Linked DNA regions of Homo sapiens: region 1 is linked to region 2. Evidence: fine-mapped expression QTL. A gene starts in region 2. The other region holds a variant in brackets. All regions are shown on one strand. Distances are between the middles of the regions.

What was found.
Region 1: its variant is fine-mapped to the expression of EMG1 in whole blood (TOPMed, PIP 0.97).

The regions. Positions count from the first base shown.
Region 1 is chr12:7,005,498-7,009,497 of GRCh38, forward strand. All of the region lies in intron 1 of LPCAT3 (lysophosphatidylcholine acyltransferase 3), which reads right to left. Among named protein-coding and RNA genes, the nearest start is that of LPCAT3, 11 kb to the right of the region's middle. The variant CA/C (reference allele first, on the strand shown) is at 1,990.
Region 2 is chr12:6,968,707-6,973,231 of GRCh38, forward strand. EMG1 (EMG1 N1-specific pseudouridine methyltransferase) reads left to right here and starts at 2,207. Exons shown (of 6, transcript NM_006331.8): 1 at 2,207-2,385. The coding sequence starts at 2,218. PHB2 (prohibitin 2) reads right to left here and starts at 1,958. Exons shown (of 10, transcript NM_001144831.2): 1 at 1,711-1,958; 2 at 1,490-1,574; 3 at 792-871. The coding sequence starts at 1,837. RefSeq lists enhancers at 1,882-2,484, 2,005-2,074, 2,165-2,344, 2,395-2,514.

The DNA of each region.
Region 1 (4,000 bases), 37 kb after region 2:
TTGAGGAACTGACAAACTATTTTCCACAAGTGGCTGCACCATTTTACATTCCCACCAGCAATGCTTGAGGGTTCCAATTTCTCCGTATCTTCACCAACATCTGTTTGTGTGTTTTTGATTATTGCCATCCTAGTAGGTGTGAAATGATATATCATTGTGGTTTTGATTTGCATTTCCCTAATGACTAAAGATATTAAACAGCTTTTCACGAGCTTATTGGCCATGTATATGTCTCTTTTAGAGAACTGTCTATTCATATCCATTTTGTAAACTGGGTTATCTTTTTATTGTTGAATTCTAAGAGTTCTTTAGACATCTGAATACTAGACTTATGATTTACAAATATTTTCTCCTATTCTGTGGGATAGCTTTTTACTTTCTTGATAGTATCCTTTGGTGCACAAAAGCTTTTAATTTTGATGAAGTCCAATTTATCACTGATCATACCAGCTGGAAATCTACTTTTTTCTATGTCAGCATCTCAATATTACTTGATGATCTGGGGAGAATTTTTGAAAATATAAAAATAATATACATAAAATTTTGATATAAAACAAGAGGGCCAAGACTTGAAGAAATCTGGAGCTTCTGTTGAGACGATGACCTGGGGTCCCAATGATTACTGTTAGGATCTTAATGTACTTAGTGGAAAGGTTGAGAGGCGCTGGCCTACGGCAGGCACTCCTACAGTAAGACTGAACCTAAACTGACATTGGTCAGTTTACTTGGGAAGTTGACCATATGTTTTTTGTTTGTTTTCTCCCAGGCTATAGTACAGTGGCGTGATCTTGGCTCCCTGCAACCTCTGTCTTCCAGGTTCAAGCAGTTCTACTGCCTCAGCCTCCTGAGTAGCTGGGATTACAGGTGTGTGCTACCACACCCAGTTAGTTTTTGTATTTTTAGTAGAGATGGGGTTTCACCATGTTGCCCAGGGTGGTCTCCAACTCCTGACCTCAAATGATCCGCCCACCTTGGCCTCCCAAAGTGCTGGGATTACAGGCGTGAGCCATGGTGCCTGGCCGATGGTATACATTTTAAAAATAAATGTATGCTATCTAGGAGTTCCCATGTTTTGCTATTATTTCCTATTCTTTCAGAGCACCAATAGTCAATGAAGAATTAAAAGTGAAGTCAGATTATCCTTTAGCTAAAGAATGGGGATTTCTAGTAGTACGGTTCAATATTTTTGGTCAGGGCCCCATATGTTTATACTCCAACTTTAATCAATCTTTTCCACTTCTGACTGAGGGATATGCTGTAGGAACTTTATGTGTACTATTTCAGTTGGCCTCTGCTGGCTTATAAACAGTAGTTGATATTTAGGGACAGTAATCCAGAGTAGTGTCCAAGTCCATCTGAGTTTAGAATTGCTACCACAGCAGAAATTGGAAACCTCGAGAGTTATAAGCCATTTACCACATCTACATGGATGCCACTTCTCCTTAAAGCATATACAAATATATAGAGATCGGAACTTTAACCTTCTGGGATCTAATATCTTCCTAAGATTTGCATACAGAATGTACACATGGATCTTCTATTATAGCAAATTCTTTTTTTTTTGAGACGGAGTTTTTGCTCTTGTTGCCCAGGTGGAGTGCAATGGCGCGATCTCGGCTCACTGCAACCTCTGCCTCCCGGGTTCAAGTGATTCTCCTGCCTCAGCCTCCCAAGTTGCTGGGATTACAAGCGCCTGCCACCATGCCCGGCTAATTTTTTGGATTTTTTTTTTTAGTAGAGACAGGGTTTCGCCATGTTGGCCAGGCTGGTCTCAAACTCCTGACCTCAGGTGATCCACCCACCTTGGCTTTCCAAAGTGCTGGGATTACAGGTGTAAGCCACCGCGCCTGGCCAGCAAATTCTTAATTGCCTGTAAAATTACTATCTCACTATGTATTATTTTCGGAAGCAGATATGACCGTGTACAGTTTTCTTATAAAAGTGCCATAGCAACATGAATACTCAGTACTGACAAGCATCTTTAATTGA[CA/C]AAAGCTTTTTTTTTTTTTTTTTTTGAGACGGAGTCTCACTCTGTCCCCCAGGCTGGAGTGCAATGGTACGATCTCGGCTCACTGCAACCTCCCCCTCCCAGGTTCAAGCGATTCTCCTGCCTCAGCCTCCCGAGTAGCTGGGATTACAGGCGTGCACCACCGTGCCCGGCTAATTTTTGTATTTTTAGTAGAGACAGGGTTTCACCATGTTGGTCAGACCAGTCTCAAATTCCTGACCTCAGGTGATCCACCCACCTCAGCCTCCCAAAGTGCTGGGATTACAGGCATGAGCCACTGTGCCCGGCCATGACAAAAGCTTTTTATTTTTAATTTAATCTTAGCCTATGGTTAAAGTGAAGCATTTAAATAGCCTACTTGATGACTTCATGTGAGCCAAGAACAAAACCTGGGTCTGATAATCTTCTACCTACTCTCTGACAAACTGTCCCTACAATTATAATGCAATGACATTTCTATGAGCAGCCTCTATTACTAACAGTTATTATACACTTGGTTCTTATACAGAATACTTCATTCAAGATGTCCAGAGCTTCATCTAGCTCACTATCTTCAAAGCTTCTGCTTGCAAAGGGAGGAACTTACACCATCAGTCCATTTTAAGCCAAAAGGAAATTCTTACCCAGAAATTAATTACTTATCCTTTTTTTAGTGTGTTACTCTCCACACCCCCTTCCTGTTTTGAAAGCAGGGAGAAATAATGATGTATACAGTATCTTCTGAACTATACAAATTACAGATAAGCTTTAAAGGTCTCTAGGAAGCTACTACTGTTTCACCATAAGAACTCCAAGTGGGCCCTAAATCTCCTGGTCCTTGACTTCAGCCACTGCTAGGAAAATGTCAATACACACACACTCCTATCTTAAAAACTCTGTGCTTGAGAAGAAGGATGGTTTGCTTTGATATTAGACTAGCTTTCCCTGGCAGCTGCAACTAGGGAACCTAATTTTTGTTAAAGCTACAAGTCACAATTTATTACTTATATTAAGAAACGTAAGGAGATCAATCAGGAGAATGCTATATTGCTTAAGGTGGTTGATGCAACACAAAAAAGATGGAGCCATTAGTCCAATAACCTTATTAAAAAAATTCCTCCTCTGGGTGTGGTGGCTCACGCCTGTAATCCCAGCTACTCCGGAGGCTGAGGCAGGAGAATTGCTGGAACCTCGGAGGTGGAGGTTGCAGTGAGCTGAGATTGTACCTCTGCACTCCAGCCTGGGCAACAAAGTGAGACTCCATCTCAAAAAAAAAACAAAAAACACAACTCCTCTGTATCTAACCTTCTTATCAAAAGTGTGAAACAGATGGTGTATGTGATGATCATGATAATGAACATAATAACAATGTGAACATAATAACAATGTGAACATAATAACAACAACATCTCTTTATTCCTCAGATAACATCCAGAGCAGGAACTCTGGAGTCAGGCAGAACTGAATGTGACTTTAAGCAAGTTACTCAATTTTTGTAGGCCCAACTTTCCTATCTGTCAGGCCTACAAATGGGAAAAACTAAACCATAAGGAATCTAAGAGTTTTGTTTATTCCAAAGAGTACAGGATACAATGACCTTTCTTTTTTTTTCTGTCACCCAGGCTGGAGTGCCATGGTGCAATCTCGGCTCACTACAACCTCTGCCTCCTGGGTTCCAGCGATTATCCTGTCTCAGCTTCCCAAGTAGCTGGGACTACAGGCATGTGCCACCATGCCCAGCTAATTTTTATCTTTTTAATAGAAATGGGTTTCACCATGTTGGCCAGGCTAGTCTCCAACTCCTGACCTCAGGTGATCTGCCTGCCTCGGCCTCCCAAAGTGCTGGGATTACAGGCGTGAGCCACCGCGCCTGGCCAATGACATTCCAAAAAGGTACTATCAGGACATCAAGTACTACAAAATAGGCACCGGAAGAAATATGCTAAATTAGTAATCCTCAAACTCTAGAGTAATAAGTATAACCTGGCTTGCTAGAACAGATTACTGGGCACT
Region 2 (4,525 bases):
CCCTGGGGGGAGGAGAGTTAATCAGGCTGACAAGGAAGACAAGACGCAGCACAGCTGAAATGCACCCTCACCCACTGTGAAGCCTTGAACTGCAAACCCCGTCACCAGCAGAGCTGACTACTCTTTCCCCCTCTGTACTCTGTGCAACCTCTAACGTGGGCGCTTTCGTGCTGTACCGTAATCATGTCTCCTGTAAGGACTTGGGGGACAAGAATTGTGTTTAATGAATCTTTTATTCCCAGGGCCCAGTCTAGTAAATGAATAAGCGACCTGCACTAGGTATAGCACAAAGAAGTACATTACAGGTTACAGGTGAGCTACCTGACCCAGGGTGTATATGTGTGCGTGGGTGGGGAGGAGGAAGAGGTCTGGGGAACTCAAAGGCACGGCTTTTATGTATGGTCTAGAAGGAGAGAACAGGTGAACTAGTCAAGCTTAGGGACAAACTTCTCCAGAACAGAGTGTACTAGTGGATGTAACTGTAGATATAGTAAGTCAAGCAGTTAGAAAAAAAAGGCTTTAAAACAAAGCTTTGATCTAGGCAGTGAACAAGACGAGGGACAAACAATACTCTTATTGAATACACGTCAGGGAGGAGACAGTAAAAAGCACGCAAACACAGTGTGTTCAGAATTTGCTGCTTTGACCCCAGGAGGCAGGTATTTTTGTTACAGCTCTTGCAGATGTGGAAAGAGGCCTAAAGGCCTGACACTACCATATTCCCCTGGGGTTTCTTGCCAGCTACCTTGATCATCCCACCTGCCATGTGATTACCAAGTGCTCAGACCTACCTTTGGAGCCTGTAGGGGAGGAGATTTTTCGAGGTCTGGCCCGAATGTCATAGATAATGGGGTACTGGAACCAAGGGATCCTGGAGAGGACAGGGATAGGTATTAAGAGGCCACAGTTTCGGCCGGGCGCGGTGGCTCACGCCTGTAATCCCAGCACTTTGGGAGGCCGAGGCGGGCGGATCATTTGAGGTCAGGAGTTCGAGACCAGCTTGATCTACATAGTGAAACCCCGTCTCTACTAAAATACAAAAATTAGCCGGGCGTGGTGGCGGGCGCCTGTAATCCCAGCTACTCGTGAGGCTGAGGCAGGAGAATCGCTTGAAATCAGGAGGCGGAGGTTGCAGTGAGCCGAGATCGCGCCACTGCACTCCAGCCTGGGCGACAGAGCAAGACTCCCTCTCCAAAAAAAAAAAAAGAAAAGGCCGCAGTTTCACTAGCCTTGCCCGGTTTCCCCTCACCACGCGTTTTTTGGCCTGCTCCTCTCCACGACCACAGACAAGGAGAGATTCTCTTGTCCCTCTGGAAAACAACAGTTTGTATGCTGCTGGAGGTTCTCGCAGCACCCACTATCCTAGGGGCAGGGATGAGGAGGGTGGGAAAAGAGCAGCGTTGAATCCTGTTGCACGTCCGACTATAGCCACTGCTGGGTCGGCGTCAAGGGTGAAAGGTCAGGGTCAGCAGGCTCTGCCCGCCATTACCTGAAGTGAAGGCCCTCGGCCAGGATAGTGTCCTGCTGCACTCCACCGATCCGATTGAAGAAGATGGCTCTGTGCCCGCCTTCCACTGTGGGGAGATGGGTGGTGATCAGGCCAGGCCGCTGCTCAGAGGAAATGCTAGGCCCGTGGAGGGGCGCGGGGACAGGGCAAGGGGTTTGGGGGAGGGACTGGAAGCGTCCGGCGAGCAGGCGGAGGTTGCTCACCGGTGAACACAGATTCGCGCACACCGTAGGCCACGGCGCCGGCCCCCAGCAACAGCTTCAGGGCCGTGCCCATGCCCCGGGGCCCGGCGGGCAGCCGTCCCGCCAAGTCCTTCAAGTTCTGGGCCATGTCTGATCTTGAGGCCGGCGGCACTGGAGGTCAGAAGGGGGTGCCGGCCCGCCTCTACCCCGCTCCGGCTTAGGTACTGCACCCTTCACACGAGGGTTCGGGCCCGTAAGGCTGGCGAAAGAAAGGGCAGCGGAAGTGCGCTCCCTTTGAAACCCTCCCCCTTAGCCCACTACGGACCCGAACTTCGCGCACAGGAATCGCGCATACGGAAGTCCCGCCCCTTTCTGGAAGGCTGCCCTCCCAGGGAGGGCAGCGCAAGACAGCAAGTCATCTCCATTTCCTGGCCCACTTTCAAAATGGCAGCCGGAAGGAAATTTGTGATTAGAAGCCGCGCTGTTCTTATTTAAGAGCGTTAGCGCAACTTCCGGTATTGTTGCAAGATGGCCGCGCCCAGTGATGGATTCAAGCCTCGTGAACGAAGCGGTGGGGAGCAGGCACAGGACTGGGATGCTCTGCCACCCAAGCGGCCCCGACTAGGGGCAGGAAACAAGATCGGAGGCCGTAGGCTTATTGTGGTGCTGGAAGGGGCCAGTCTGGAGACAGTCAAGGTAGTTTGGGACAGGAAGTGGAGAAGTAGTAAATCGATAGGTTGGGACTCCGTGGAATGAGGGTAAGGGGCCCAGAGTGGATGTAGAAAGCAGAGAGGGGTGAAAGATGCTTTTGAAGGAAGGTGGCTTGGTTGGCTTTGCGTTGATTTGACATCCTGGGATGGTAGTACTCATTTTTCTTTCTTTTTTTTTTTTTTTTTGAGACGGAGTCTCGCTCTGTCGCCCAGGCTGGAGTGCAGTTGCGCGACCTCGGCTCACTGCAACTTCTGCCTCCCGCCTTCAAACAGTTCTCCTGACTCAGCCTCTGGAGTAGCTGGGACTACAGGCAGGTGCCACCACGCCCGGCTAATTTTTTTGTATTTTTAGTTCAGATGGGGTTTCACCATGTTGGCCACGCTGGTCTCGAACTCCTGACCTCAAGTGATCCGCCCGCCTCGGCCTCCCAAAGTGTTGGGATTAGAGGCGTGAGCCACTGTGCCCGGCCGGTAGTACTCATTTTCTTTTGCTCTTTTTGAATGATATTCTAGCCCTCACCTCCTTGCTTCCAATTGGTTTACCAGGATTCTGTGGTATAGTAGTCTAAGCAGAGGAAAGTTTCGTTCCTTGCGTCATTCCACATCCCAAGACAAGTTACTGGGCAGATGAGAAACGTAGTTATGTAGCCTAGTCTGCCCACACTTTTTGTAAGGGCTTCGTGTTTCAATTCATTAGTATCCATAGTCACCTCTCTCTAATATCCACCTATGATACACTGTCCAGACCTGGTTATTATTTAAAACTTTTACATCTGCATTTTTATCTATCATTCATCTCTTTCCCCACATGTAATAGAACCAGCAGTTCTCTATCTTAAAGCCTTGGGCAGTGTTCTTCCTCCTCCTTTCTCTTACCCGTTAGAACTAATTGAATAGGCCCAGAAGAAATCGCATTGGTTTAGAAGTCAGGCCAGGATTTTAATCTTCGTTCTAAATACACTTTTTTTTTTTTTTTTTTTTGAGATGGAGTCTCAGTCTCTACCAGGCTGGAGTGCAGTGGCACGATCTTGGCTCACTGCAGCCTCCGCCTCCCGGGTTCAATCGATTCTCCTGCCTCAGCCTCCAGAGTAGCTGGGATTACAGGCCTGCGCCTGTAATCTATTAAAAGAATAGAAAACATGATTATATCCTACTAATGGGTTGAAACTGTATTATTCATTCAAGAAGGTTTTTTTCTTCTATAACTAAGGGTGTCTCATGGACTTAGTTCTTGGTCATTTGTTCTTTGTGCTCTCTGTGACATTACTTCAACTATTCAATTTCAAAATCTACATCCCTTTTTTCGCAGACTTTTTGGAGCCATATATCTCAAGAATGTTGCTAGACATATACATTCCAGTGATACATAAAAACTTAACCTTCCAAAACTTGTATTTGTATATAACAGTTTGTTTTTAGACTTTTTACTGACCACCCTAATGCTCCTTGGGACTCCAAATTGCAACTTGGAATTATTTCTTTTAGCTGCTACAGATGTAGTCCACTTCTTTAACATCAAACTTCTGATGTCTTTTCCAGTGTACAGAGAGTTGTTAGGATAGTGTCTGTCAGTCATTCCCATCCTGCCCTGCTTACTCCAGAATTATTTTTGGCTTTGTGCTTGATACATTAGGATTCTGTGGTTTACAAAGCAGCTTCATATATAATCACTGCCCTTTAGTGTCTCAGCTCCCAATTTTCCTCAAAATTTCCTTTCTTCGTTTCCACTTTTTCTTTTTTGTTTCTTTTTTGAGATAGGGTCTTGCTCTGTTGCCTGGGCAACAGAGTGCAGTGGTGTGATGGTTCACTGCAGCCTCTACTTCCCTGGCTCAAGCAGTCCTCCCACCTCATCCTCCTGAGTAACTGGGACTGCCAGCAAATGGCACTGCGCCTGGCTAATTTTTTTTTTTTTTTTTGTGAGACAGGGTCCCACCGTGTTGCCCAGGCCGGTCTCAAATTCCTGGGCTCAAGTGATCCTTCCACCTCGGCCTCCTAAAGTGTTGGGATCACAGGCATAAGCCACCACACCTGGCTACTTTGTCTTGATTCCATCTGTACCTTTGCTCATGCCAGTCTTTCTTTTTTCTTTTTTTTGAGACAGGGTCTTGCTGGAGTGCAGTGGTACA